4 linked regions of the Homo sapiens genome follow. The protein of the gene in region 3 purifies or fractionates together with the protein of the main gene of each other region. This does not show direct contact. Each region holds a gene or a part of one and is shown on either strand. Other genes may lie near its edges. The genes, in order: IMPA2, GM2A, HSF2 and SDR9C7.

Region 1 (8,499 bases), on a different chromosome or scaffold from region 3:
TTACAGGCATGCACCACTATGTCTGGGTAATTTTCATATTTTTAGTAGAGACGGGGTTTCACCATGTTGGCCAGTCTGGTCTTGAACTCCTGACCTCAAGTGATCCACCCACCTCAGCCTCCCAAAGTGCTGGGATTACAGGCGTGAGCCACCGTGCCCTGCCTATATTGTGGATTCTATGTAGATGTTCCAGTGGCTTTTAGGAAGGTCTTTATGATTTCACACATCTGTCTACAGTCATGTCTGCAGAGCAGACTCTCCCCACTCCCTCTGCAGACAGCTGTAAAACATTGTCTTTCATCTCACAGGTATTAGCTTCCTACATGAGTAAAATCAGGTTTAAGTGAATAAAAATTGTGCATCTCTTCCCATGTACCAGGGAAGTATTTTTGGTGCCTCCAAAGACCGAGCACGGTTCACGCCTCTGCTGGCCTTCACACCGCTGCAGCCACACAGTGCAGAAGCCTGCTCCCTGCTGCCCACAAGCATGAGGCAGGTGGGAAGGGGGATGCTCGTGCCACCTTGTAGGCGGGCAGGCAGTCTCATGGGCAGAGGTGTACACAAGGTGGGTGATGAGGAAGACAGCTCTAGGGTATGAATGATCAGCTGCTGAAAAACATCCAGTGCTCAGTGTGGGTACTTAGAGTTATTCTCATAAAAAATGTGAGGCAGAGTTAGTCAGGTGTGGTGATGCATGCCTGTGGTCCCAGCTACTCAGGAGGCTGAGGCAGGAGGATTGCTTGAGCCCAGTGGTTTGTGGCTTCAGTGAGCCATGATTGTGCCACTGCACTCCAGCCTGGCTGACAAAGCGAGACCATGTCTCCAAGAAAAAAAAAAAAAATTTCTAAAAGTACTTGCTGGGTTACACTAAATGAAACCTAAAAAACAAATAGATAAATAATAAAGGTTACACACAGCAGAAGCTTTGTTAACAAATTAACTTATATTAATAGTTGCTGCTGGGAAAACAAGCTGCTTGGTGACTTCCCTAAAGGGTGTCCCACGCATCTGGCGAATGAACAGACAGAGCTCCTGCTCCCGAGTGTCCTGGGAGGCACGTGGGCATGCCGCGTGGGTGGTCTGGGTGCTGCAGCGTGAGTTGTCCTGGGTGTGGAGTGTCAGTGCCTGCAGACCCACACTGCCTCCTCCTTCAGGGCTCACTGGCAGTTTTCTTTCCACCGCTTCAGTTTCCTACTTGAAGTCAGGTTTAAAAAGGAGAAGAATTGCACATTCCTCCTCAGTTTCTTAGAAACTTACCTTTGTGCCTGAGTCATTTCTAGTCCCTCTGGACCTGAGTCATATCTGTTCGCTGCTTTGTCAACCTTGTGCCCAGTTTAAGCTTTCGTAGTTGCTCCTTGTATGTGTGTTTTCAGGGTGTGGAGCGTTTTCTTTAAAAACGTCATTGCAAGCCATTACAGAAGAGGAAAGTCACATAGCTACAGAAGACATGGAAAAACAGATTTAGTGCCTGAAGTTTCTAGGAAAACTGGCAGTGCTGACAGCACTTATGATCACGCCCTAAGTGGAATCATCACCTGTGTGTCTCCTGCAGGCTGCTGTTGTCAGGAGGCAGCCTCTCCACCCCCTGCCCCGGCTGCCATTGTGGCTTCTACCCACCATTTTTCCTCCTAGATCTGTTTGGGGAGCACCAGTTCCTGAGCAGGGGCTCTGGCTGGTGGGCCTGTGCATCACCTGACCTAGAAGCATGTGGACAACTGAGAGTGGAGAGGCAGTTCCTGCAAGGAGCAAGGCGTGCAGTGTAGATGAAGAACCAGAAGCCTGGGTTCACTGCATCTCATCTGCCTTGCCTGGCTAGGCTGAAAGCTCCAGGGGCAGACTGAGCCTGCCCAGGCTCTCCAGGAACAGCTGATGATTCCTTGGGTGTCTTGCTTAGTGCTCCTGGCTTGACTTGACCTGGTCTTCTTGGCTCAGAAGCCCCTGCTTATTCGTGGGTTTCTCCAGGGGGCCGGGGAGGAGGTCGCACAGCCTGAGATGATGTATGCGTGCACTTGTCGTATCCCAGGGTTGTATTTCTAGATAATTTATCAGCAAAATGGAGGGGCTGGATGACTCTGCATCCCAGGCATGAACTTCATAACCCAGCAGTGGAAGGATGGTCCCAGAGTGGATGGGGACCAGGGTGGTTACAGTGTGTATGGCAGCTCCCGTGCATAGAAAAGTGACATCGGGCCAGGCGTGGTGGCTCACGCCTGCAATCCCAGCACTTTGGGAGCCTGAGGTGGGCGTATCACGAGATCAGGAGTTCAAGACCAGCCCGGCCAGCATGGTGAAACCCCATCTCTACTAAAGATAAAAAAAATTAGCCAGGCGTGTGGCGCACGCCTGTAATCCCAGCTACTCATGAGGCTGAGGCAGGAGAATTGCTTGAACCCGGGAGGCAGAGGTTGCAGTGAGCTGAGATCGCGCCATTGCACTCCAGCCTGGGCGACAGGGCGAGACTCTGTCTCCAAAAAAAAGTGACATCGAATACCATGAGATGCCTGCTGTTGCCTCTCAGCATCTCGGTGGGAGGACAGCACTGCCAGCGGCTCTGTCTGTTGCTGCAGGGGTGGCCCACATCTGCTGTGTCCACAGTGGTAGCCGCTCACCCACGTGACTGCCAAGCACTTGAAAGGTGGCTCATGAGACTGAAGAACTGAAGTCTTTATTTAATTCAAATGTAAGCAGCCATATGCGGTGACTGGCTACTGTAAGGCGCTGAGCGGTCACAGAGGTTTTCATTTCAGTCTTTCCATTCACACTCAAGTCTCCAGCCTTATCCAAAAGTTCATTGATGCCAAATCTTAGACCACATGGTTCGTGCGGGGAAAGTGGCTTCCAGGAGGCTGATGACCACAGTGGATAATACACCAAACACCAGAACATGGGACGCTTCTTTCTTTCTTTCCTTCTTTTCTTTCTTTTCTTTTCTTTCTTTCTTTCTCTTTCTTTCTTTCTTTTTCTTTCTTCTTTCTTTCTTTCTTTCTTTCTTTCTTTCTTTCTTTCTTTCTTTCTTTCCTTTCTTTCCTTTCTTTCCTTTCTTCCCTCCTTCCCTTCTTTATTTCTCTCTCTCTCCTTCCTTCCTTCCCTTCCTTCTTTCTTTTCTTTTTCTTTTCTTTCTTTTCTTTTTTTTGAGATGGAATCTCACTCTTGTCACCCCGGCTGGAGTGCAATGGCATGATCTCGGCTCACTGCATCCCTCCCGTCCTGGGTTCAAGCGATTCTCCTGCCTCAGACTCCCAAGCAGCTGGGATTATAGGCGTGCGCCACCACCCCCAGCTAATTTTTGTATTTTTATTTCTTTTTCTTTTTTTTTCTTTTTGAGATGGAGTCTCACTCTCCCAGGCTGGAGTGCAGCGGTGTGATCTCAGCTCACTGCAACGTTAGGATCACTGCAACCTCCGGCTCACTGCAACCTCCACCTCCTGGGTTCAAGCAATTCTCCTCTCTCAGTCTCTCAAGTAGCTGGGAGTACAGGCGCCCACCACCACGCCCAGCTAATTTTTGTATTTTTAGTAGAGACAGGGTTTCACCATGCTGGCCAGGCTGATCTCGAACTCCTGACCTCAGGTGATCTGCCCGCCTTGGCCTCCCACAGTGCTGGGATTACAGGCGTGAGCCACCGCGCCTTGCTTGTTTTTCACTTATTTTCTTTTTCTTACTCTCTGCAGGTCTCCTTTTTCTCTAGTACACATGTGAACCCGGCACAGGAACTGGATAGAAAACCTCTCGGCAAGGCCACATAGTCATGCACAGAACAGATGTTTGCTTAGCGCCTGCCCAAGGCCTCACCCTTAGTGAACTTGGGACAGTCCAAGAGTGTCAAAAGCACTGCCCTGAATGCTTTAGATCTAGTCTTTTCTTTGATCCTGAGAATGCCTTTGGAAGGTGTAAACAGCGGCCAGCTCCACAGGGACCAGCCTGCAGAAGGTGGGCTGCGAATACACCTGACCACAGCATCTTCCCTGTGTGTGTGGGCCTGCGTGTGGGTGGGGTGCAGGAGGAAGGGTGACAGTGCATGGGGCGAGAGTGCTTTCCCTTGTTTTTGGCCTGAGCAGGGGGTGCTGGGAGTTGCCATTCGTGGAGGTAGAGGCAAGTAGAGAAAACCAGGAGTTCCCTTCTGTGCAGGTGAATCTTGAGAGAACATTGTCTCGGTCAGGTTCCTAGCAGGACAGACGCACACTCAAGTGAGGATTGTAGGGGGCCTTGTTTGCAGAGGGACTCATTACAAAGGAGGGGCCAGCCCAGGGCCTGCTGCAGAGTGCAGGAGCAGGCCGCCCATGTCCCTCTAGCAGGAATGTGTCAAGCAGGCCACATGGAGGAGTGGAGCCTGCACAGGGCACATGGGGCAGGGAGCGTCCCAGCCTCTCTCCTTCCTGCAGCCCCACCCTTGCTTGCTCCCAGAGGGAAGCTGGATTTGTGACTGGCCAATGTAGCAAGACCCCACCTCTACAAAAATAAAAATACTAGCTGAATGTGGTGGTATGCATCTGTAGTCCCAGCTACTTGGGAGAACAAAGCAGGAGGATTGCTTGGATCCAGGAGTTTGAGGCTGCATGAGCTATGATGATACCACTGCACTCCAGCTGGGCAACAGATCAAGACCCTATCTCTTAAAAAACAACAACAAAAAAACCAGGGAAGTCAGATACCAGGGCAGGAAGGGCACCTTTGGGAAATGAACCAGCTGCGGGGGGGCTCTGTTTGTCACCTGTGTCTGCAGTTCAGGTGAGCCAGGCTGGGTACAGACGTGGGAGATCTCAGCTGCAAGTGACATTTAACCCCTCGGTGCCCAGGTATCAGCATTGACTGGGAGAATCAAAGTCAGAGTCCTGGGCCACCTTGCTTGGTCATATCTCATCAGCCTCCTCCCCTACAGACTGAAGTTAAAATCGAGTTTAGTTTTGCTTCAGAAGATCTGTTTTCCAGTGTTCTTCACGCTTGCATTTCTCTGCCTGGCCTGCTGGAATTCCCTGGTGCTCTTTCTGAACGCTGGCACTGAGGTGTCACTCTGTTTTCTAAATCCTGCTGAGTAGGTCCGCTGGCAGGCAGGTCAAAAAGCACATGGTTGTTTAAAGACTCTGCCTCTGTTTGACCCAGAGAAACCATGATGACATCTGTTTGCTGTGCCACCTTTTTCTTTAATGGGACTGGAAGCAATTTCAGGCACGTTATTCTGTGTCCTTGGTGCATTTTCTCAGGCTGGGTTCTTCCACTGCAGGTTCATTGCAGAAGAGGCCGCGGCTTCTGGGGCCAAGTGTGTGCTCACCCACAGCCCGACGTGGATCATCGACCCCATCGACGGCACCTGCAATTTTGTGCACAGGTGAGCTGAGCAGGGATCGCCTCCATTGCAGGGCTTAACATGTCCTCTTCTGTGAGGTTTTGTCTTTTCAAAAGCAGCATTTTTTAAGGCAGGAATATATAAACAAACCTATAGTACACTCATAGTCTCATCAGAAAGATGATCAGATCTTGATATTTTTAAAATAAGGTTTTCCGTTTGTGAGAGGCTCTTGGAGTATGTTAGGAAATCTGCACTTGTTTAAAAACCAGTTTGTTATGTTAAAAATGTTGGGTTGCATTTAACAAGGACCCCTTGAAGGAGTCTGACTCCCCTCACACCCCACCCCCACTGGAGAAAAAGGTGAGGTTGGGATACAAAGCCTGTGCTGCCCCACAGTGGCCCGGAGCCCAAGGTGTAGAGAGTGGCCTGTGACAGGTGAGACTTGAGAGCCAGCTTCCTGTATGAGAGCAAACCTTGTGGTTACAAAAAGCAGGAGGTTTGGGGAGGTCAGAAGGGCCCGTGTGGGGAGGTGAAGGGAATGGAGCTTCGGGGATGGTGAAGTGACAGGATGCAAAGGTGACAGGGACACGACCACAGGTGTTCTCTGGCAGTGGCAGGTGATGGTGCTGCGCTGCCTGTCTACACGCACAGGTGGCTGGGGGCCTGGGGCACAGAGCATGATGTGGCTTAAACGGAGCGTGGTTCTCCAGCTCTGGAGAACCCTGGAGAGATTCCCATTCCATGGGCGGGTGGCTTGCAGCTCCTGCGCTCACAGTGCACGCCAGCACACTAGGCTGCACGCGCTAAGCAGGAAGGGTGAGCAGAGCCCGGGTGTGGGCTCCTTTATGATCTGCCTCTGATGGCATGTTTATATGTAAAACATGAAGTTATTCCATGCTAAGCACAGCCTTTTTCTAGGTGAGTTGCCTCGAGAATTCAGTTGTGCCTACATAAGGTGACCCTTTCGAGGCAGTGGAGTCGTGCCATCTGGTGCCAGCAAATGTGTCACCAATCTCTCCTCTCATTTCAACTAAAGCATGATCCTTCCCAGGGCTCTCCTCCCCAGAGTATGTCACTGAGTGGAGCCTCATTACTTCTGCCTGCTCGTGGTTCCAGGGTGCTCATAATGGTGACATGGCAGGTGAAGCCCCGTCACATGGTGAAGGCCACACGTCCATTCGAGGGTCTTCAGTGGCTCCAGAGACATAGTTTCCAGTGCTTTCCTGTCTGCACCCCTGGGGGGATCCTGGTACTGGGGAGGTGACTGGGAAAAGAGCAGCAATTTCAGAACAGTCTCCAGAGCTGATCCTGACAGTTCCTGAACCCCACGCTATAGCTGTGGTGATTGTTGTGGTCTGAAGACATCCGAAAGCCACCAGCATCTGCCACTCAGATGGCGCCTGTTCACCCCTGTGCCCACCAGTGCTGGGCCACAGCAGTGGGAGAAAGCTCTCCTGGGCACTGGAACAAGCGTGAGGCCTGGCACATGGTGCATTTGCTCTGGAAGCCAGCGGCTCATCCCAAGGTCCCACACACCCTGGCAGTCAGAGTTGCATTTGTGTACAATTGGTTTTGCATTTTTCCTGTCAGTTTGCAGTACCCAGCCTTTCCTGCCTGTTTTTAAGCTCCAGTGATCTCCCTATAAAGGAAGGATTATTTTGAAGATATTGAGCGGCAATAGCAGAATCACAAAACTGCAGGCAAACTGATCATGAAAACTGTCTGCAGCCGTGGCTGTCCCTGCAGCTGGCTACTGGGCACTCAGGCAGGGATGCTAGCAGTGCCACAGGGTGAGCTGTGGCTCAGAACTGGCCCCCATGGGGAGGCTGTGGTGCCTTCTGGGACCACCTGCCTGGCGCCCCACCTGGGACTGGGTCTGGCCTTTGGGGAGGGCTCTGCTGTCCCTTTAGGTCTGGAGAACCAGAAAACAGATGATTGAGATCCTTCCTAATTGGGCTTCAGAGGGTTGTTGAGTTACATCAGTCTTATGTGACTTTCACAGTGCTGTTTTCTTTCAAGGTTAACTGTCTTACGACATGGTCAGTTTATTCTGTTTGTCTTGGAAGCAGTTAGTGAAACTGTGGGAAGTAGTTTTTAAACAACCAACCCACCCAGAGTGTAGGAAGGTCCTTCTGAGCCTGCGGGGAGCCGCACAGCACACAGGCTCCCGAGAGCTGCCGCTCTTGTTCCAGAGAGTAAACCTTTCTATTTTCCTTTGCAGATTCCCGACTGTGGCGGTTAGCATTGGATTTGCTGTTCGACAAGAGGTGCGGGTGTGGCCCAGGTCCCCAGGGCCCCTCCCTGGGCTCCCTCTGGCCATCCTTCCTTTCTGGCTTCAGCCTCTGTGCGCCTGGTTTGCTGTTTGCCCTGTGCCTTAATCATGACTGGCAAATCCAAGCCTGTGGGTTTCAAATCCGAGAAAATAAACAAGTCCAGACTGGCTTTGGGGTGTGCGGGGTGGGGCTCCGTGGCTGGCCCTTGTCCCCCGTGGAGGGCTGGCCTCGTGTCAACCGTGGTCTATTTGTGACACTGCTGTGGAAGCGGAAGTCTTAAGTGAACGGTCCAAGTGCATCTCCAGCTGACCCCTAGAGCGTGTGATCTCACAAACTAAAAGGAGCACTTAGTTTTGGAGAGCATCCTCAATCCCAATATTCTAATAATTCTTTCTTATCTTCCTCTGGTTATTAGCATGAGAACATAGCTCTTTCATGGTTCCCATAGACCTTCTGAACTACACAGTGTTGTGCGACCTGCATGGAAGGCGTGGGGCTGAGGTTTAAAGCTTATTAAATAATTCAAGCAGCAGCACTGAGAAGAGCCTTAATTTCTTTCTAATTGAAACAGTTTTATTTAAATAGGGCCGAGGGCTGCATGTTTCTCAAAAGCAGCCCTGCTTCAGAGCAGCATTTGTGCAGCTTCACCTTAGTCTCAGCACAGACTCCCTGGCAGGGGAGCTGAGAGAAGTACTTAAGTTGAAGTATTTAAAGTTAAGTACTAAAGTATCTCAAAGTACTTAAGCTGAAGATAAGTAAGAATTGTAATACTGTAATTTGTCTAAGGATGCAATGATTGACGTCTTTCTCTGTTAAATAATATTGTGGTGCCCAGAGTGGGTGGGAGGCTGAGCAGTACTTCAGGGGTTGATTGATGTTCTGTGACTGTGTGAAGGGGCTGCTGGAACAGCTGGCTAGGTCCTTGGCCCTTCTGTGGGT
Region 2 (9,171 bases), on a different chromosome or scaffold from region 3:
ATACAGAAAGCACAGGGCACAACTCCTCAAGACTGCCAAGCTCATGAATAAACAAGGAAAGACTAAGAAGCTGTCATAGGCTGGAGGAGAGGGGGGACTACAATTATATGTGTCATGACAACAATGGCAGTGCAGTACCCTGGATTGGATCCTGGCTCAGAAAGAGGGCATTAATGGGAAAACTGGTGAAATCCAAATAAAGTCTAGAATTCAGTTAACAGTAATGTACTAATGTTGGTTTCTTAGTGTTGGAGATATGTACATATAAGATGCTAACAGGGAAAACTGAGTCAGGAGTATATAGAAACTCTATATTATCTCTGTAACTTTTCTTTTTTTTTTTTTTTTCTTGAGACAGAGTCTCACTCTGTCATCCAGGCTGGAGTGCAGCAGCGTGATCTCAGCTCACTGCAACCTCTGCCTCCTAGGTTCAAGTGATTTCTCCTGCCTCAGCCTCCCAAGTAGCTGGGACTACAGGTGTACGCCACCATGCCTGGCTAATTTTTGTATTTTTAGTATGGACAGGGTTTCACCATGTTGGCCAGGTTCAGGTTGGTCTCAAACTCCTGGCCTCAAGTGATTTGCCTGCCTTGGTCTCCCACAGTGCTGGATTATAGGGGTGAACCACCACGCCCTGCTGCAACTATTCTATAAACCTAAAATTATTCCAAATTTTTTTTTAGGAAAAAAGCACATAGCCCAGTACATAGCACATAGTATGGGTACAACAAATGACAGCCACTATACAGCACTATAGAGTCTATTAAGCACCTACTATATGACTAGCATGGGGCTAGATATCCTCCCCTGTTATCTAACACCCATCACAGCCTGTAGTCACAAGATCAGTTATGCTAGAAGAGGAACTGAAATTCAGGTTTCCTGATGTTCATTCACTGTCACCCCCCACCCCCATCTTTATCTGGCCCAGGGACTCAAGGTCAGGGCTCTGAATCACATGAGCCCCAAGAAGATGTAGGTGCTGTGTGATTTTGAGTGACCTTTATAATGTCTCAGGGCCTCTTCAAAACTGCCAATCTAAGACCTAGTCTGAGATGGCATCCATACCCACAGCATATACAACAAGTTTGTAGGGTGAGCTAGCAGCCTCTAGCCAGACTCCACCTCATAGCGGCCAGCCCTGGAGCCAAGAGAAGCATTCTCAGCCAACATTCAGGAACAAGGTATAAATTCTCCAGGCAAATGAAGTCAAAAGGTCCACGTTCCTTCATTCAACAAGCAAAACAGACTTTCTGCCTCGGGGGCAGAGTGAGGCCAAGCCCACAGATTTATATGGCTTTATTTGTTTCTGATTTTAGAAATTTTCCATCAATGAATGCATTTCCCTTCACCGACAACTCCCCGAGATGCACGTTGGCACCATCACACCCATCTTACAGATGAGGAGAACAAGACTCAGGAAATCCATGGATTGAGACAGGGGAATGATCAGAAGCCAAGCCTCCCTGCTTTCAGTATCACCCGCTTTCCCCTACACAGCACTGTTCCTCACTCTCAAACACTTCCAAGATGGTAGAAGGGAGGGGATCAGGGTTGGACCTATCCCTTTGCTACCAGAAATGTGTGATGTCTTGACCACAGCTAGCAGCCAAGAGGCAATGGAATCGGGTTTTTGTTTTTGGGGTTTTTTTGTGAGATAGGGTCTCACTCTGTCACCCAGGCTGGAATGCAGTGGTGCAATCTCAGCTGTAGCCATGACCTCCCAGGTTCAGGCGTAGCTGGGCCTCTCACCTTAGCCTCTCAAGTAGCTGGGAATACTGGCGCACACCACCACGCCCAGCTAATTTTTGTATTTTTGCAGAGATGGGGCTTCACCATGTTGCCCAGGCTGGTCTTGAACTCCTGAGCTCAAGCAATCTGTCCACCTCAGCCTCCCAAAGTCCTGGGATTACAGGTGTGCACCACCGCACCTGGTCTTGGGTTTTTTTTAAATTGACAAACCATAGTTGTATACATTTATGGGGTACACTGCAATGTGAAATGTATTCTCTTAGTTGTTTTGAAATGCACACAGTTCCTGACTTACAATGGTTTGACATACCATTTTTCAACTTTACAATCGTGCCTAAGTGATAAATATTCAGTAGAAACTGTACTTTTAGTATCCATACTGTTTTTCACTTTCAGTACAGTCTTCAGTAAATCACATGAGACATTCAACACTTTATTATGAAATAGGCTTTGTGTTAGATGATATTGCCCAACTGTAGGCTAATGTAAATGTTCTGGGCATGTTTAAGGTAGGCTAGGCATGTTTAAGGTAGGCTAGGCTATGATTCTCAGGTTAGCTGTATTAAATGCATTTTCAACTTATGATGGGTTTATCAGAACATAACCTCATGGAAAGTTAAGGAGCTTCTGTATATAATACATTACTGACGATAGTCACCCTGGTGTGCAATAAATCTCAAAGCCTATTCCTTAGCAGAACTTGGTGGCCCACACCTGCAGTCCCAGCTACTCAGGAGACTGAGGTGGGAGGACTGCTTGAGCCCAGGAGTTTAAGGCTGCAGTGAGCTACAATCGCCCCACTGCACTCCAGCCTGGGTGACAGAGTGAGACCCCACCTCTACTCTCAACTTCTGTAAGTTCAACTTGGTTAGAATCCGCATATAAATGAGATAATAAAACAGAACTACCATATGAGCCATTATCCCACTTCTGGGTATATATCCAAAGGAACTGAAATCAACATTTCGAAGGGCTATCTGCACTCCCATATTCATTGCAGCATTACTCACAATAGCTAAGATATGGAAATAACCTAAGTGTCCATCAACAGACACTTGATGGATAAAGAAATTATCCATCAACAGACACTTGATGAAGAAATTATCCATCAAATTGAATGCATAAAGAAAATGTGGCATATATACACAACAGAATACTATTCAGCCTTTAAAAGGGGGAACATCTTGTCATTTGCAACAACATAGATTGAATCTGAAAGACATTGGGCTAGCTGCAATAAGCCAGGAACGAGGCTTTTTCAGGTGAAGGGATTACAGAACTTCCCTTTCCCAGGGATCTGCAGCACGGTGTGAATGAGAAGTGAAGGAAGAAGCGGTGTCAATGAGAAGTGAAGGAGGAAGCTTGGAGGGTACGGGGACTGTTGTCTCAGTGGCTCATAACCAAGGGCAGCGGGGTCACAGGCCTGGGTATTTGTCACCAGATGGGCAAATCTGGATCCTCTGGCCTGGAAAAGCTCTCAAACCCTCCCAACTCTCAGGAAGACCTCAGGGCATTCGAGCAGGGGAAGAGATGAGGCAGCAGGCCTTATCATGGGGGACATAAGGAGTGGGGGTCAGGAGTAAGGTGCAGGGTTAACAGGACTGAATCTCTGGGGGCAATGCCTTAGTTTTAAGGCTGTCTGCATTTTCACTCCGGCGCTTGGAGGGAGGGCAGGAGAGTGCAGACGTGAGATTAATCTCTCCAAAAAGGGCCTGGAGCAGAACAAGTCTTTAGAGGCCACCCTCATTGTACAGACCAGAATCCCATAATTAGTTACTTTGGAAGGCTCTAGTGCAGAGAACCAATTCTAGAGAACGGAGTGGCCACCCCCATATCTCAGCCAGACCCGCACACCCGTAGCTGGGCCAGGAGGCTGCAAACAGACTCTTAAAAGAGGGTGCACTCACCTTTTTCAGGTGGGCTTGCGCAGGGGCCGCGAGAAGCAAGCCCAGGGCGATCAGGAGGGGAGCCTGCATCAGGGACTGCATCGGGAAGGGTGGGTCAGGGCGGAGTTAACTGCAAGGTCTGTGGCGGCAGAGGTGCCTTTAAATGCCTTCCAGTATTGGTTACGCAAAGAAGCTGAGTCCAGTCACTGGCAGGTTCGCCCTGCCCCGTCCCGGCCAGAGACTTCCCGGCCGAGAATTGGACCGATTCCTCCCGGCTCCGCCCCCTCGCTCTTTTCATTGGAGCCTGTCTCTCTAGCGTAGGTGTCAAGGCCTTCCCTCTCTGGGGCGTAGGCGGAGTTGGAAGAGAAAGGGGCGGAACTGAGCGCGGCGGGGCTGAAGGCGGCTGGAACGGAAGGGAGCTTAGCACGAGGTTGGGGCGGGATCACGAGGGCGGGGCGGAGCTGCGCGCGCGGGAGGGGCGGGGGCGTGGCGCGAGGAGGGGCCGAGCGGAGTCGGGGGCGGGGCGGAGCAGAGCTCCTGGGAAGGGCGGGGCCGGGCAGGGGATGGGGCGGAGCTGTGGTTTGTGAACTCGTGCCGGGGCCGTCACCTTTGGAAGGACCTTTGGGAAACCGCGGATTCAGTGTTTTCATCCCCAAGTCCTTCCGGACAAAAATGTCAGACTCTCTGCCATGTTACGCTTCCCCATATGTGTGTCTTTTTTTTTTTTTTTTTTGCTTTGAGACGGACTCTCGCTCTGTCGCCCGAGCTGGAGTGCAGTGGCGCGATCTCGGCTCACTGCAACCTCTGCCTCCCAGGTTCAAGCGATTCTTCCGCCTCAGCCTCTCGACTAGCTGGGACTACAGGCACGCGCCACACGCCCAGCTAATTTTTGTGTTTTTAGTAGAAACGGGGTTTCACCGTGTTGTCCAGGACGGTCTTGATCTCTTGACTTCACGAATCCGTATCTTTTTAATAATTATAACCGTTATAAAAACTAACATTTAGTAACTGCTTGAAAGCATGCTAAGGACGCACAAGGGAATGCTTTTTTTTTTTCTTCCCCAATTTTAGCACTGAGGAAACTGATACACAGTGAGGTTAGCTCTGCCAAGGTCGCACAGCTAGGAAGGAATAGAGCAAGACTTCTTTTTAGACACCCCATCAGCCAAGATTTTGTCAGGTTAATATACTAGTTGGAGATTTGCTTTTAGAAAAAACAGGGATGTTGTTACCAATACCGCCAATTTACCACAGGATTGTAAACTACACAAGGGGTGGCATCATGATGCAGGCACTCATTTATACCCAGTGCCTGATGCATAATAGACAATCTGTTGAGTACATGAATGCATGTGTAGAATTTAAAACTCACCTGATCATCTTTTTTAAAGTAAACTTTTTATTTTGGTTTACAGAAAAGTTGCAAAAATACTACAAAGTTCTGTTCGTTTCCTCTATTGTTGATAAGACACCCGTGGCCTGGCCGGGGGTTCAGACTGCAGACCCAGAGCTTGTGCTTGTGCATAACTGGGGGGCACTGCCAGCGACAAGGAGGTGGCAAAAGAATAAAAAATTAAAAAATTTTTTTTAAATCTGAGGGCATGACATTGGTACACTATTATTAACTAAGCTCCATACTTTACATAATGATCCTCCCATTCTGATCAACTCTTCCCTTTCACCTAGCCCAACTGAGGTAGGAGAATAGAGTCTGCAGGCAGGGAACCTAAGGCCATTTCACGCTGACTTCCTAGAACTAAATCGAAAGGAAAACCCTAACTTTCCACACCTAAGTAACAAGAGGACCAGAGGCTACTCTCTTTACAACCCCCCACCTTTTCTGTGCAGCAGATGGGAAATTGAAAGTACATTTCGATTTCTATGCTACATTTCAGTTTATATGTTAAAATTGCATAGAAGTGCAACTTTGTAACTTCACTTCAGCCTGATTGGTTGCTTTCCACAACCAATCAGATGTTTGCACAGGAGCATGACCTTTGTAACTTCACTTCGGCCTCTGATTAACCAGTCAGACTGATTGCGGGCCACCACTTCATTTACATGAGGTGAGCACCAAGTGGCCAATGGGAAACCTCTAGGGGGTATTTGGACCCAAGAAGATTCTGTATCTGGGCCCTTGAGCTGCTGCTTGGCCCGCTCCCACACTGTTGAGTGTACTTTCATTTTTAATAAACCCTTGCTTTTGTTCTTTCATTGCTCCATTTTTCCCTTGCTTTTCTGTGTGTTTTCTCCAATTCTTTGTTCAAAAACGCCAAGAACCTAGACAACTTTCAGTCAAAACCCTCTACTGGTAACATATTTTGGCAAGCCAGCCAGGAGAGAAGGTAGGCCCAAAGCTTGGGATTTATTTTTCTCCATTTCCCTTTTAATGCAGGGGAATTTTTCTCTCCCTCTCTCTTTTCCTTTCCAACTCGGAACCCAACTCGGTGGACAGCGCCTAAGCACAGAGGAAATTGTAAGTTTCTGGCCAGGGCCACTCTCTGGTGAGACTGAAAGGCTTCCGTGTCGAAGCACTTGACCGCCACTGCCTGGTCACTGAGAAGTCTTTTTCCTTGTTTTCATTTTTCTGAGTCCTATTCCTTTTCTTTTTTTCTCTCTTTTTTCTGAGTTCTATTCCTTTTTGTTTTTTGTTGTTTTTTGTTTGTTTGTTTTTTGCTTTTTCAGTCTTTCACTGGTCGTTTCCTAGTAGCTCCTTGGTAATTGAGGGAAACTGGCCGGGGCCACTCTCCAGTGTTCTCTGAAGGCCAAAGAGTGAACAGGGACGGCTGCCCTGCCCAGAAGGGTGAAAGACTCTTTTCTGTCCTTTCTGATTATAGATCCCTACCTGTGTCTGGGTTGGCAGCAGCAGCAGCTCATCCAGGGCAAACTCACACGTTTCAGGTGACTTAAACCTTATGCTAAATTCTTCCCTTCCCTTCCCCCACTTGACTGGCTAAGGACAGAAAACCCACCTAGCTATGCAAAAAGGTTATATGAGTCAGAGGGTCCAGGCATGTCGTAGGTGGTCTGTGTGATGCATGGGGAGTGGGGGGAATTCATGAAAGGTAATCTATTATTGCCTAAATTGAGAGAGTTAAAGGGTTGCTTTGCCGGCTGCGGTGGCTCACGCCTGTAATCCCAGCACTTTGGGAGGCCGAGGCAGGCGGATCACGAGGTCAGGAGATTGAGACCATCCTGGCTAACACGGTGAAACGCCATCTCTACTAAATATACAAAAAATTAGCCAGGCATGGTGGTCGGCGCCTGTAGTCCCAGCTACTCGGAGGCTGAGGCAGGAGAATGGCATGAACCTGGGAGGCAGAGCTTGCAGCGAGCCGAGATCATGCCACTGCACTCCAGCCTGGGCAACAGAGCAAGACCCTGTCTCAAAAAAAAAAAAAAGTTGCTTTAAGTGGCATGGGAAAACCTTAAGGAAAGTTCACAGTAGGTCTTCAGTGGTGGAGGGAACCATTCCAAAGCAATGCCTGCACCTATCTAAGGTCAGAGACATCTAACAGGCTAAGTCAGGGCCCTAATGGGGAGATGCTCCCAGGGACCCCAGTCTGGGCCCAGAATTTTTCCAGGAGGATGCCTCAGGTAAAATTTGGGTCACCTGGTCAGTCCTCTTCTCTTTTCCAGACCACTGTGGGCAACTCTCTACCTATTCCACCTGATTCCCCGCTCGGCTACGTCCTCCACCATTGCGATCAATTTGACCCTGACAATCTAAAGAGAAAACATATAATTTTTTTCTGCAGTACTGTCTGGCTCCATTATGAGCTGCCCAGCCTGGAAAAAATGGGTAGTCAATGGTAGCCTTAATTATGACATCATCCTGCAATTAGACCTATTTTGCAAGAGACAGAGCACATGGTCAGAAATCTTGTACATGCAGACTTCCATGACGCTTTACCAAAACCTAACAATCTGTGAAACTCCCAGAACCCACCCCACAAAGGAAAGTTCTAAGGGAGAACTACATATTATAGATGACCCCCTCTTACAAGGGCCACCTGTCTCTCAGAGTGAACAGTGACCACCCCCATATAGCCCCTTGCAAGTGCTCCTGAGGCTCAACCCCAGGAGCAAACACCAGAGACCCTACTAAGTCCCCCTCACATTCGGAGGGGAACCCTGTATTCAGCTCTTCTTCCAGCCCTGCTACACCTTAGGGAAGTAGCAGGAGTTGAGGGGCCAGTCCTAGTGCAGGCCCCCTTCTCTATAACTAATATTCAACAATGTAAGGAAAAGCTAGGAAGCTGTTCTGAGAATCCTAGGAAATTTGCAGATGAGTTCCACACTTTGACCTTAGCCTTTGATCTCTCATGGAGAGATGGTCAATTCATTCTAGCAACCTGTTGGCACTCCCTCAGGAAAGGAACAAATCTTTGAGGCTGCCAGCAGGGAAGTGGATGAATTATCCACCTGAAACCCTCAGGGCAATTACCGAGGCCCAGACACAGTTCCCACTACTGATCCTAATTGAAACTATAACGCCCCCATGGGAATGAACCACCTGGCTAAATTTCTTGAGGCTGTCCTTGGAGGAATGAGAAAGGGATTAACTAAGGCAGTAAATTATGATAAAGTAAGGGAGGTTACATAAGGCAAGGAGGAAAATCCAGCCATGTTTTATGGTAGGCTGGAGGAAGCCTTTAAATATATACTAATCTGGACCCTTCTTCTCCCGAAGGCAAAATATTAATGGCACAGCATTTCATTAGCCAATCTGCCCCAGATATCAGACGTAAACTCCAAAAGCTACAGATGGGGCCACAAGCTAATCAAAATCAGCTTCTTAATACTGCCTTTATGGTGTATAACAATATGACCTGGAGGAAGGAAAAAGAGAACAGAGTAAAGAAAGACGGCAAGCCAAAATTATGGCAGCCATCATTGGTGATGCCCTGAATGCCCAAAGAGCATCTAAGGGAAACCCGAAGGACTATAAAGATAATACCAGCAAAGGCAAGTCTTGCTTCAAATGCAAGAAAAGCGGGCATTGGGCAAAGGAATGTACTAAGCCCCCGCCCTCCAGCTCCCCTCAGGCCCCTGCTGTCAACGCAAAGGCACCAGTCACGAACCCTGGCACTGGAGAATTGATTGCCTCTGCTCCCACTGAGGGGCTGGGTTAGGCAAAACTCTAGCAGTGCGAAAGGAGGAATCAGATGAAGACTGAAGGGGCCCGGGGTCTTCCTCACTGCCCCTGTCCAGGAACTTTGTAATTACTACTGGGGAGCCTGGAGTAACTCTGGATGTCACGGGCACCCAAATTCAGTTTCTTTTTGTTACAGGGGCAAATTACACTGTCCTTACTGCTTATGCAGGGAAACTTCCCTCCTGGTCCATGAGTGTTATGGGAATGGAAGGGAAGCCACAAACCAGATTTTTTACTCCTCCTTTGATTTGTCAATTTGAGAAACGAATCTTCCAACAGGAGTGCCTAGTAGTATCAAGCTACGCAATCCCCCTGCTGGGAAGAGAGATTATGGTTAAAATAAGGGCACTACTACAATTTAAGCATCACCCAGTG
Region 3 (4,467 bases):
GAGGCAAGAGAATCGCTTGAATCTGGGAGGCGGAGGTTGCAGTGAGCCGAGATCACGCCACTGCTCTCTACCCTGGGCGACAGAGTGAAAGTCTGTCTCAAAAAAAAAATTGTTTGGAGGAAGTAGAGTGGATGATAGAGATCAAATCACTATGGCATTCAAATTCCTTTAGGTAAATGTTAAAGAAACATATAACAATTATGTTTTAAAACAGCAATATTAACTATATCCTAAATTCCTTCCAACTATTTAAACTTAAGATGAAAAATCTTAAATGTCAACTTTAAAAGTACCAGGGTCATAATCAAGTTTTTCAAAATTATTTTTTAAGTGCTTCTAGAGTTCCAAAATGCCCCCAAGAAGAAGAAACTTGACTGTATTTCACAATGAGAAAGGAATGAAGAAAAGTCTTTTAAGGTTTTCTCCTCTCAGTTTCTAAACTCTTATCACCCTTAGAAACATAACCTCTTCAGCTCACGCAGAGCACTGTTGTAGGGTCTTGAATTAATTCACCAAGATCCCACCATCAGAGCCAAGTATTTTAGGATCTAACTAAAACTCTCCTAAGGGAATTTTCCTATTCTTCTGTGCTAGCCCTTACTTTGAATCTTTACATCATAATAAAAGAAATTCTAAGACACTGACAGAATATGGCCAATAGGAAAACCTGCCTTGAAACTCATTAAATAGCCCTATACAATATTAATTGTACTGCTTTCAGCCCTTTGCCCAAAGGTGAAATTCTTCACATGATAAAGTGCCCTGGCCTTGCATTAAGTCTCCATAATTCTCTTGGGCAACTGTTTCAAAGGAAAGAGGTGATTTGACTATTTCTCTTATCTTCTCTCCAGACATCCAGTGATAATATTCTTACACTATTTGGGACAATGAGAGGCATAATTCTCTCACTTTTTTATTAGAAACATAGAAAGCAACCCAGTATAATTTTTAAACAAAGAACTTTAAAATACATTAAATTTAGAGATTATATTTCTCCCTTGTTGCAATATACAATATATTTTCGAGATGAGGCACAAATATCTTGGTATGATTCATATTGAGAATAATGAACCACAGACAGTTTAAAGCTACTGCTTCCTATGAGAAGAAAAAATTGTTTCATGTGAGTGTCACCTCTAAAGAAGACACATAACAGACACTAGTACTCAACATTCATTGTATTTATTTTACTAAACAGTATGGTTCAAAAAAACACAAACCGGAAAACCTTTATTTAAAACTAGTCCAACTAACTGGATGGGGCTCACTCCATCCCATCCCACCCCCGATCTTTCTATATATATGGAGCTGGAACCCTATCAGACAGCGAGCATTCACGTACACTTTGTCTTTCCTGTTGAACATGAATAAACGTCTTTGAACATAAATGAACTTCTCTGAACCAAAAGAAACAAATGAAGTTTTACAAGATACAGGCACTTTATGTTCCCAGTTTTAAAAATAAGCCAAGTGAAAAATATTTAATAAAAATAACTGGAGCAGAGAAAGCTTTAGGAGTTATACCATTAGTTCAAATGACTTACACTCAATGCAAATAGACAGCATCAAACAGGAAAACAAACAAAAATTTAACTGAGGTTAATGGTCGTATTTGTAAAAAAAAGATATCCAATTTACCAAAATTGGAGAAAAATGGCCATTTGAATCCAACTTAAAGATACGCCAATAATGTGCATTACATCTGCGTAACTATGCAGCTGAGTAACACCTGAAAGCTCTGCAAGAGTGTGTGGTTAGTGAGAAAAGCAAAAGGTGCTTTTATTCCACAGTATCTGATTAAACAAAACAAAGCAATTTACAAAAAAAGTACCAAATGATACTTTAAAATAAATAGTTCATCATTTTGATGAATATATACATGTAAAGTCCACTTCCTGGGGATTTAGCTATCTAAAAGTGGCATATCACTATCCAGAGGTGCAGGAGCAAGTTCACATAAATAAAACAGTGTAGCTTCACTAGCTTCAGCTTCAGTCAATGGCTCCAGGCGAACAAGCTTACTTTGGGTTGGTTCTGGGTCTAGGCTGCTATCCAGAAGCTCATCAACTTCTATGGGTTTATCTACAGAGGACAAAACTTCTGATGATGCTGTTGTACTCGCCTGTTCAACAGAAGAAGCAGGGTTCCCATCGAGGAATGCAAGAAGTGGAAAGGCGGTATACTGGATAAGCTGCTTATCTATAAAGATCAGAAAAACACTCTTTTATCACCAGCTTATACTGAGTTCAAGCTGAGGGGAAAAAAATGAAAACAGAGATGTACACATAGGCAATTACTACTCTCATATAGCCAAACAAGAAATGACATGATGCACTATGTCAATAAATTTTAAAATGTGCAAGTCAATAGCTCTTATTCAACAATTAAGAAATGAGGGGTCTTTAGTTTCCTAAAGTTAAATAGGATAAAAAAAAAAAACTTAAAGAATTGTTACCTCACCAATTCAACTTTCTCTATATACTAGAACCTCGACACACTATTCACAGAACTAAAGCCAGCATATTCAATTAAGACTACCCTCGGCTTGCACTTGTTTCTGCATAGGATTAAAAAAACCTACAGAGACTGAATACTATATTTATACCTACCTGGTTTGGATTTAGATTTTCTTCCCTCTTCCGAAACTGGCTGAACTACATTGTTCTTGGTAGTTTCTAATCCTTTATTCTCAGACTAAAAGAAAAAAATATATATATAAGTACTTGTTTCATATTTTATGTTTCTGAAAAAAATGAAAAATTGATACAATATGTAAATACTGGTATATTATCTGAAATATATGAGATGGGGAAACATCAGGGAAAATGGGCTACAGAGAGAGATCTGAGTAGAGATAACAAGACTGGTTAAGGAACTATTGCTGTCACTGAGGGGATAAAACAAAGAACCTGAATTAAGATGTTCTATATTAAGTATGAAATGAAGGGGGATTTCAGCAGCAGAACAGATAGAATTTGTCACGAGTAAAAGATCAGAATGAATCAAAGATGACTGGTTTCAAAATGTTAATTGAGAGATAATTAACTAAGCAATTAAATTCATTTTAAGTAGTTTTGATTTAAAAAATGTATTATACATTTCACTCATAAACAGAATATTTAGCATAAGTGAACATATTTAGAGTAGCTCAGGATGACATAATGACATCCTTAAAACTCTTTATCACTATTTAGAAGCCTCAAAGTTGAGGTGGTGTTTCTTCTTGTCCTTTCTGTAGCTCTGTCAGTTCTTTTCTGTCATTTAAATTGCTTCTTTGAACCACTTTCTTCTCTCCTCACATCTGACTGTGGTAGGGAAATTATATCTTTACCATTGTTAATTTCTTCAGTGCTCCTTTCATGTTCAAACTCTGAGGTGCAGAGGTTCTTAATTTTTCCTGTAAGTCCCAGACATCTGCAAGTCCCAGATCTACATGCTGGCTAAATATATATGGTGTAACCAACTGTAAACTAATTCCAGTAATTCCCCTGATATTTAACATAAAATGAAGCTGTGTAAGTTTTAGGATTTAAGAGAAAATAAGGGCTCCAAGATATAATAAAAACTACGAAACCTTTCCAAAAGTGTACATAAAAATATTTCATCACTTAGCATTCACAATAAATATATAAACATTAATGAAATAATACCATCTTTATTTTTAGGCTTCCTAAAATAGGTATTTTCCAAAGACGTCACCGTTATTCTAAAACATGAGAACCTGATAACAAATGGATTTCAAATAGACACAATAAAAAATGATAAAGAGGATATCACCACTGATCCCACAGAAATACAAACTACCATCAGAGAATACTATAAACACCTCTACACGAATAAACTAGAAAATCCAGAAGAAATGAATAAATTCCTGGACACATACACCCTCCCAAGACTAATCCAGGAAGAAGTCAAATCTCTGAATAGACCAATAACAAGTTCTGAAATTGAGGCAGTAATTAATAGCCTACCAACCAAAAAAAGCCAGGACCAGACGGATTCACAGCTGAATTCTACCAGAGGTACAAAGAGGAGCGGTACCATTCCTTCTGAAACTATTCCAAACAACAGAAAAAGAGGGACTCCTCCCTAACTCATTTTATGAGGCCAGCGTCATCCTGATACCAAAACCTGGCAGAGACACAACAAAAAAAGAAAATTTCAGGCCAATATCCCTGATAAACATCAATGCGAAAATCCTCAATAAAATACTGGCAAACTGAATCCAGCAGCACATCATAAAGCTTATCCATCACCATCAAGTCGGCTTCATCCCTGGGATGTAAGGCTGGTTCAACATACACATATCAATAAACGTAATCCATCACATAAACAGAACCAATGACAAAAACCACATGATTATCTCAACAGATGCAGAAAAGCCTTTAATAAAATTCAACACTCTTTCATGCTAAAAACACCCAATAAACTAGGTATTGATGGAACATATCTCACAACAGTAAGAGC
Region 4 (8,906 bases), on a different chromosome or scaffold from region 3:
TTACTAACTCGTTTTCCCTGAAGGGACACTTTTTCCTGATTCACATAAAGTCTGCCGGCTAGCTGGCGCTCTGTACTAGCTACAATCGAGGTGTTAGGTGACAGCATTTCAGCTATCAGCTTTGGGATAAGAGTTTCATTTTCATACCAATGAATTAATGTTTAGATCCCTTCCCCATCATACTTCTCCCTCTCTATTCACTTAAGTATAACCAACTGCATTTCACATACTACCAAAATCAATCCATTCATTCATTCATCTTCACACATTTATTCATGCATTTATCTAGTCTGTGACAATTACAGGGTGAAGGAGGCCAGGTGCAGTGACTCACACTTGTAATCACAACCCTTTGAGAGGCTGAGGTGGGAGGATCACTTGAGGCCAGGAGTTTGAGACCAGCCTGAGCAACAGAGTAAGACCCCTGTCTCTACAAAAAAAGAAAAAAAATTAGTCAGGCGTGGTGGTATGTGCCTGTAGTTCTAGCTACTTGGGAGGCTGAGGTGGGAGAATCACTTGAGCCCGGGTTACAGGTTACCTTGTTCGAGGTTACAGTGAGCTATAATGGTGCCATTGCACTCCAGCCTGGGTGACAGAGTGAGACTCTGTCTCTAAAAATAAAATGAAATAAAACGATATAAAATAAAATAAAGTAAAATACAGGGCAAAGGAGACATAAAATGAACAACACAGCATCTTATCCCTCAAGGAACTCACAAGCCTAGAAGGAAATAATAATATTTATAAATAAATATATAAAATATTTAAATAAAATAATTATGGAAAATGTGATGAGGACTATCCTTGAGATATTTCAATTAGGTTGGTACAAATGGAAAGAAATAATGCTAAGTGTTGTCATTCAACTCTGCAGGGGCCCAGGGTTGAAGAGCTTCAGGTCCAGTCCTGGTTTTACCTCCAGCCTTGAACAAGTCACTTCCCTCTCTGGGCCTCAGGCTCTTCATCAGATTAGACTAAAACAGTTGTTTCCAGGCTGTATTTTGCAAGCCTTCTAGGGGGAGGAAAATGCAGGAGAAGCTCTCCTTTCATTTGTTTTACATATTGGGGTTCTACTGTAAACCCCTCTAAACACTCCTCAAGGACCCCTTCCAGCTCCTTCATGCAAGGATTCCCCAAGTCCTACTGCCTGGTGATTCGCACCACAGCCCCAGCCTCAGCAGCCCCAAGATACTCTGCAGGCGCATCCCACTGTCTCCTGAGGGCAGGTCTCAACACAAACATAAATCCTAGTCCACCCCTCCCTCTAGGGCTGGGGTCCCCACCCAAGCCATGCCCCTACCCAGTCTCCCTGCCTTTCTCCATTCAGGAGCAATGAGAAAGCATGAAAGAACTTCCTCTCCCATCCCCCTACCCACCCCAGTTCCCAGTGTTTCTTAGACCAGGATATTGCCAAGTGGCTTAGGCAAAATAATGGTCCCCCAAAGATGTCCCCATCCTCATTATCTCTGGAACCTGTGAATCTGCTGGATTACATGGGAAAGGGGAATTAAGGTTGCAGGTGGAATGGAGGTTGCTAATTAATTGTCCTTAAAGTTAGGGAGGAAGCTAACACGGGAAATTATCCTGGATTAACCTGGTGAGCCCAATATAATCACAAGTCCTAAGTGGAAAGAGGCAGAAACCGGAGAATCAGAGAGCTTGAGAAAAGTGTGAAAAAGACTGGGCCCAACCTTGCGGGCCTTGAAGATGGAGGTAGCAGGCCAGGAGCCAGGGGATGCCAGCTGCCTCTGGAAGCTGGAAAAGTCGATGAGACGGATTCTCCTCTACAGCCTCTAGAAGGAACACAGCTCTGCTGACTTTGATTTTAGATCAGTGAGGCCTATTTTAGACATTACTCCTCCACAACTACAAGATAATATGTTTGTATTGTCTTCAGACCCCACAGTTGTGTTATTTGTTACAATAGCAACAGGAAACTCACATGCTAAGTGAGGTATTAAGGCAAGTGGCTCAAGGCTGAATGTAGGGAACTGGCTGAGACAGCCTGCTGAAGACAGAGGCTCACTCTTGCTGAATTATTAATTAATTAGCTCACTCAAATCTATTTATTCAGTACCTTACTAGGTGCCAGACATTATTCTAGGTACTAAGGATGTACAGTAAATAAAAGGGACAAAAATCCTTGTCCCCAGGAAGCTTTATTCTAGCAGAGGAAACAGACAATAAATAAGTAAAATCTATTGTACATTGACTAGTGATAAGTGCTAAGGAGAAGAATCAAGCAGGGAGTTACTGTCTAGATCCCCCTGGCTCCAGGGCTCTGTTGCCCTGACCTGCGCATGGGCTCCAGACTAGTTCCTTTAGGAGGGAGGACTTCCTCTAGTCTGCTGCTTCTGCAACTCAGCCATCCTGTTCCTCCTGTTCCTGGGCCCACACCCTGTGTGCTGGAAGTGCATGAGGCAGGTCCCCACACAGTCCTGGGCCAGCCCCAGTCCACAGCTTCCTTTCCCAATAGGAGCAGCCACTGTGACATACATACTTGCCCTGAAGTCAAATCAACACCCACCATGATGTCAAGAAGAGACCAGATCTCTTTCTCCCCTGCCTGACATAGTCAAGGAGACAAACTGCACCCACTCATGGGATCCAGCCTCCTGTCTCATTCCCCCTCCCCCATCCTGATCCCAACAAGAAATGTGTTTGTATTTCCCCAGGAGCTGATGGTTAGGACTGCTGAAACATCAGAGAGGCACATCCTTTTTTTTTCTTTTTTTTCTTTTTGAGAGGGATTCTTGCTCTGTCACGAGGCTGGAGTGCAGTGGCGCAATCTTGGCTCACTGCAACCTCCGCCTCCCGGGTTCAAGTGATTCTCCTGCCTCAGCCTCCTGAGTAGCTGGGACTACAGGCACGTGCCACCACACCCAGGTAATTTTTATACTTTTTAGTAGAGATGGGGTTTCACCATGTTGGCCGGGATGGTCTCGATCTCTTGACCTCATGATCCTCCCACTTCGGCCTTCCAAAGTGCTGGGCTCATAGGCGTGAGCCACCACGCCCAGCCAGGCACGTCCATTTTTAGAGGTTTGGACACACAGAACACATCTTCCCCCCTCGCTTCCTATTGAGACCTCTTTCCCGTTTCTCTGAGTTTCCAGGACAGAAAACTTCCTTGGGAAATCACCCCTTCATGTGAACAGGCCAAACCATGCAGTGGCTTCCAATCAGATTGAGGCAGGGGCCTTTCCCTACATCACCCCTCCCACCCAATCTGGACATCAGGGTCTCTGATACTGTCAGATGCTTCGGGAGAGAGGAAGAGGAAGAAGGAGAAACCAAGAAAGCCAAAGAATGTAATTCGCCCCACCTTGTTCGCCCACTTTGTCCCTCACCCACTGGGCCGCCGCCTTGATGCTTTCGCTCTTGGTGACATCCAGTAGGGTGGTCTGCAGCCGATAGGAGGTATCCCGCTGAAGTTTCTGGGATCCCTCCTCAGTGAAGCAAGCAGCCAGCACCTGCATGCCCCGATCAACCAGCTGTTTGGCCAGCAGGTTCCCGAAGCCAGAGTCACAGCCTGTGATGAAGACGTACTTCTCTGAGAGGTTGCCAACCAGATTGCAGTTCTTGAACCAGCGATACATAAATGAGAGGTCTGTGAGGGCCGCCATAGGGCAAGGGGAATGTGATGGCCAAGAGGGACTGGGCTCAGGAGACAGCAGGGAAGAAGCTGGTCCTCTGAGCCCTAGCAGGCAGTCTGCAGGAAACCACCTGGAAGAAGAACTCTCCTTCCTCCCACAGCTTGCAACAAATCTAGGTCCCTGGGTGAGCCACGCTGTAATTTTTATAGGTGGATGCATCACCACAGCAATTAGCCCAGATGCAAGAAATTCAAGTCCAACCTGAAGCCTTGTCACCTCTGACAGCCCTGGTAGCTGCCTCCCTCTCTCCCCCTGCCCTGATGGGTAAAGCTGCCAAGAATTGGAAATAATCCACTTGTAATGTTGGTGATGAGTGGTGGCTCACCCAGGCGGTGTAAGGCAGGCAAATGAAAGATGAGGACTCACCCCAGACAGCTCCCCTAGAAATCCTGTCCCCACCCTGCCCCCAACCCAGCCTGGGGATTTTGGTCTCCAGGGATCAAAATCATTTGTCGTGAGTGCAGGTATGTAAATAAGTTTATTTTCAGGGAAAATACTCAAGACAAATTTATTAATGTAAAACAAACAACATTGGTTCTGTACCTTCCAAACCCCAAGAGAAACAAGTCGCAGGTCATCAGCTCTCTGGAATTCTTAGGTAAGTCTCCATCATGAGAGAGGATGAAAAGCAATGGATTTCTCCTAGGGTGGATGTACCTCCATTGTCCTGAGGCTAGAGGCAGCAGGGCCCTCCTATAGGGGAGGCTGGCATGTGAAGCTTAGCCACCAGAAAGCAGAAAGACCTGGGGGACTCAGGCCTGACACCCTGTGGGGGTCATACTCAGGTCACCAGTAAGCAGCCCTGGGCAAGATGATGAGGAGGGATCATGAGTTCACTGGGCAGCTGAGGGAATTGTCTGGGCAGAGGCCTTGACTGTAAGAGGGGATGAGATATAGGAGGAGCAGAGAACTGGGGCCAGAGACATAGAAAATTCTCAGGGTCGGGACTTGGAGGAGAAACAGAGATTCTAGGCAATTTAGCAAATAATTTACAGAAAGCTAAGAGGTAAGGTGGTAAAGGAAAGGAAATAAGGAAACCAGAGGTGTGAGTAGTGAGGGGCCACACCCAGAATTGCATAAGATGCAGGGAATGATGCTGGAGCCTCTGTGGTTCTTTGGATCAACATCTAGGGTCACCATTCCTTGGGATGAGCCTGGTCCTAGCTCACACCTTCATGGCTTAGCGAGTCTGACACAGAAATGGGACCACAAAGTTCTCTAGTGTGAAGGGACAAAGGATGTATCTCTGTGATCCACCATTTGCCAAGTCTGACCAGCGTGGAATCACATAAAGCAGGTGTCACCCTGGGAAAGCCCCGCAGGGTTTGGCCGTTCCTTAACAAAGTAGGGGAGGGGGCCAGATTATGAACCCACCCCCAAAGAGCAGACCTAAAGCTTATAGGGGATGGAGGTGGGAAATGGTAGAAAGCAAACCACACCTACTTCATAACCAACCTGAGGCAGAGCACCTCCTATGCGGGATCTGGGAACAATCTCCCAGTCTCTGTCTGCCTCCTGGGTGAATGAACAGAGAAGTCTTGGCTGAAACAGGTCAGACCATGTCACTCAAGACTGAGCAGGTCCGGGGCATTGGGTATCCCAGTCCTTGAGGACACAGGTGAGGTCCAGGAGTTGGGTCTGACTTAGCATAAGGATAACTCAGAACTGCCCCAGCACAGGCCTGGGCCTGACTCAGCACCTCCTGGGCCTCTATGCTGGCAGTGTTCCCCTGGCCTCAAACTAAACACACAGTCCATGAGGGTGGGGGGTGTGAGGGAGGTAGGACCACATAGAAGGCTCTTCTTCCCAGGGCTAGAAATGCCTCCCTCTCTCAGATGACAGCATTCCTTGCCAAGCTGGCCCCTAAGGTCTGATAGGTCAGGTTGGTAGCTGCACTCCCCATCCCCACCCCATGCACACAGGTATCTCAGAGGAGAGGAGCCCTCTCCTCTGCCAGGCCATTTCCCTCCAGTGGGAGAGCATAGACTGCTGAGGTCCAAGACACACCCTGATGAGGTAGACAGGAGGAAGAGCAGGTGTGGGCTCACCCACCCCCAGTTGCTCAAGACCTTCCACAAGTGTGGATTCTTCAGGTTGACAGGTGGGCCATGAAGCTCAGAGCCCAAGGAAGTGGGATGCCATTATCTGTGATTGGGTCTCCCTTCCTAAGCAGCAAAATGTGGTTCTTTCCTCCTAATATCACCAGAGTCCTGAATAACGTCCCAGAAAAAAACTAGAACAGAGGTGAGGGAAGTGAGGTACATGACCCTGAACTTGAGAGCTCCCTCCCACCACTCTATTTCTCACCCCATGAAACAGCACCCCTCCCAAGTGCAATGATGTTAAAGTGAGGGCCGGTCACTGAGTGCTACAAAGAGGTCGCTACAAAGTGCTACAAAGAGGCCTGCCAGTGCCTTTGTGACATGTCATTGCTTCCTTGTCCCTCTGTGCACTCCTGTGACCCCAGGCTACTTGATTCACTCCTGGAAAGGAAACAATTGCCCCTCACCTTGGTGGCAGAAAGGGCTGAGACAGGGCAGGGATAATCCAACTTCTCTCTTCAATTTCCTCCTGAGTTCATCCCTCTTATCCCCAGATCCCCATGAAGGCACCTGCCTCCTCCTCCCTCTTGTTCACAGCCCATGCTCCCCTCAGACTAGAAGGCAACTTGCTGCACATGGCTGCACTTTTTAGCTTTTGCTCTAGAACTAAAGTAACCAGATGGTTTTTTGAGGGTCATGGTTTCAAGAGGGTCAAACATTGGTTCCTGTGTCCTCTGTCCGAATCCCTATTGAGAACACCACTGCCAGCCAATGGTTTTAAGAGGGTCAAACATTGGTTCCTGTGTCCTCTGTCAGAATCCCTATCGAGAACACCACTGCCAGCCAATGCCCCCAGAGCTGGCACCTGAGGTCTAGGGGTCAGGCTGATGGCTGCCCTGTCGCCCCACACCTTATCCACAGGTATATTCAGAGGAGCCCCCATCCACTTCCTCCAGGCCATTTCCATCATGGAGAGAGTGTAATAGACTGGCCAGGTTGATGCACACCTGGGGAAGAAGCAGGAGGCAGAGAAGGTGTGGGCTGTGGATCCTTCCCCTCCTCACACGCTCCCATTGTGTAGACTCCTCAGAATTGGCCAAGAGACTCAAAGGCAACAGGACACCTATGAGCGTTACTGGGTCCCAATCTTTAGAAGAACACCTTGGTTCTTTCCTCCTATGTTGCCAGTCCTGAGTGATATCTCAGTGGAATTCTGTGGAGGGCATGAGGAAGAAGCTGGGATAGGCATCCAAATGGCAAGAGTGCTCCCTCCCACCACACCATTACTCTCCCCAAGACACATCACCTCACCCAGATCACCCAGCTCCACCCAACCATGCACCCCAGTCTTGGATTCACAGGGGCTTAGCCAGCCTTGGAGAGCCCCAGTTGAGCGTGACGTCCATAGGAAGGTAGGCATGTCGCTCATGGGGAGGTAGAGAAGATTGGTGTCTCAGCCAGCTGAGTAGTGAGCGCTCCATGCAGTGGGTCAACAAGGATAGATTCGTACTGCATTTTGCCCAAAGCCTTCTAGATGCTTTTCTGATGCATGTTAAGGATGAGGAAAGATCCTTAAAGTACTAGCACATCCCTTCCCTCCCATTTAGAGCTCTGAATTAGGAGGACAGTGTCTAAGAATTCCAGGCCCCCCAAATGATATGCCTCAAGTCTAATCCATCCATATTCCCCAGAGAGTGCCCCAACCTTCACCCAAGGAACATCCGTTTCACTCTAAGCCCCCTCTGCCTCTCTTTTTGAGATATCTGGACTCATAAATGGAAGGTCTCTACTAACAGCCTAAGAATATGAAAATCAGCTATCTCTAAACCCAGCTGCCCATGAGCCCACTGGTAGCCACTGTCTCTGACTTTAGTTTCCTCTTCAAAATAATGAGGGATTCAGATGAGGCAGTGGTCCCAATTATAGAAAGCTTGGATGCTTCCTTTAGGTGAACAGTTGACCACATGGCACCCTGGGAATGGGGATAAATGTCCTCACTTTTTTGGGGAGGCAGAGTTTGGAGGACAGATTCTCATACTGTTGGAGGCACTAATGATGGACCCAGACTTCTAGACAAGGATTTCTTTATCTCCCCACTGTCCACAGCTCACTCACGGGATATCAGAAACTTCTCCCCATACGTCTCCTTGACCTCGGGGCTGGCCTAGTCCGACAGCTCCTTGAGGTTCTGTAAATGCCTCTCAGAGCCGGCCATACTGGTCCTGAAGTGACCAGGTTCAATCACAGACACCTTCACTCCAAAGTGGGAGAGCTCCCTCCTGCATGGCAGACATGCAGAAGGGCAAGGACTTAAGAAATTTTGGGAGGCAAAATACAAAAAACAAAGAAACCCAATACAAACCCAGCATGCAACGACAGTGGGAGATGCAAGAAAGCTTGGAGAGTTGGGAAGGGCAGCAGATAGCAGATAAAAGTTATGATGGTGGCCTTGCCTCTCTCTGGGGTTTCCATATTTTACATACCAAAGCTTACTAGCCCTAAGTCCTACCAATTCAAGAGCAAGGCAGCATCTCAGTGCTATCACCTCCTATGCCCCTCACATCCAATGGATCACCAGAATTCCCACATTCTACCTCCTCTGCAGTCCTCAGTCCCCTCCCTTCTTCTCCTGCCCCAGGAATCTCCCTGGCCTCTGAGCTGGGTGATGGCAGCTGTCCTCTAAGGAGCGTCCCTCTGCCTTCAGTCTGGCTCCCCACACTCACAGCCACTGGGCTCCCTGCAGTAAGTGGGTGTCTAGAAGCCGATTAGACCAAAGAGCTCCCCTGAGCAAATCCCTTCTTTGGGGGTTCCACTGCCAACAGCATGAGGCACAGCTCCTGTCCAGGGCCTCCACGAGCCCATATGAACCCACCTGCCCAGCCTCCTCCACAGGCCTGGCCCTGTGCTTCACCTCATGAGGACCCCACAGCACAGGCAGGCAGCTGAGGCTCCCCCTAGGTCTGGGCTGAAGACAAAAGTCATTCCCCCATTTCTGTTCAAGGCTGCCAGGTGGGGATCCTCAATCTCCAGCTCAGATCCCACTGCCAGGACCCTCCCCAGCTTAGGAGGCTGCCATGGCCACCAGGGCTGACTGGGTCACAACCCCTATGAGAACTGGCAACAATGGTTCTGGCTCTCTTGCTCCTCTCTCAGGTGTCAGAGCTTTTAGGTCAGGGCCAAAACCCTGTTGTTGTCCTAGGCTGAGTTT

Evidence for each region.
Region 1: the proteins of HSF2 (region 3) and IMPA2 purify together in Homo sapiens (affinity purification with mass spectrometry; 2 studies listed by BioGRID and IntAct, with this or other methods). This does not show direct contact.
Region 2: the proteins of HSF2 (region 3) and GM2A purify together in Homo sapiens (affinity purification with mass spectrometry; 2 studies listed by BioGRID and IntAct, with this or other methods). This does not show direct contact.
Region 4: the proteins of HSF2 (region 3) and SDR9C7 purify together in Homo sapiens (affinity purification with mass spectrometry; 2 studies listed by BioGRID and IntAct, with this or other methods). This does not show direct contact.

Annotation. Positions count from the first base shown.
Region 1 is NC_000018.10:12,004,662-12,013,160, forward strand, and holds part of IMPA2 (inositol monophosphatase 2), read left to right. Parts: intron 1-3,676; exon of another isoform or gene 3,677-3,748; coding exon of another isoform or gene 3,749-3,930; intron 3,931-5,221; coding exon 5,222-5,326; intron 5,327-7,508; coding exon 7,509-7,554; intron 7,555-8,499. UniProt on the Homo sapiens protein: Phosphatase that can use myo-inositol monophosphates, myo-inositol 1,4-diphosphate, scyllo-inositol-1,4-diphosphate, glucose-1-phosphate, beta-glycerophosphate and 2'-AMP as substrates in vitro.
Region 2 is NC_000005.10:151,247,786-151,256,956, reverse strand, and holds the start of GM2A (ganglioside GM2 activator isoform 1 precursor), read right to left. Parts: upstream 3,773-9,171; 5' UTR 3,741-3,772; coding exon 3,660-3,740; intron 1-3,659.
Region 3 is NC_000006.12:122,429,657-122,434,123, reverse strand, and holds the end of HSF2 (heat shock factor protein 2), read right to left. Parts: intron 2,695-4,467; coding exon 2,610-2,694; intron 2,200-2,609; coding exon 1,904-2,199; 3' UTR 1,005-1,903; downstream 1-1,004. UniProt on the Homo sapiens protein: DNA-binding protein that specifically binds heat shock promoter elements (HSE) and activates transcription. In higher eukaryotes, HSF is unable to bind to the HSE unless the cells are heat shocked.
Region 4 is NC_000012.12:56,930,636-56,939,541, forward strand, and holds the start of SDR9C7 (short-chain dehydrogenase/reductase family 9C member 7), read right to left. Parts: upstream 3,774-8,906; 5' UTR 3,627-3,773; coding exon 3,326-3,626; intron 1-3,325. UniProt on the Homo sapiens protein: Plays a crucial role in the formation of the epidermal permeability barrier.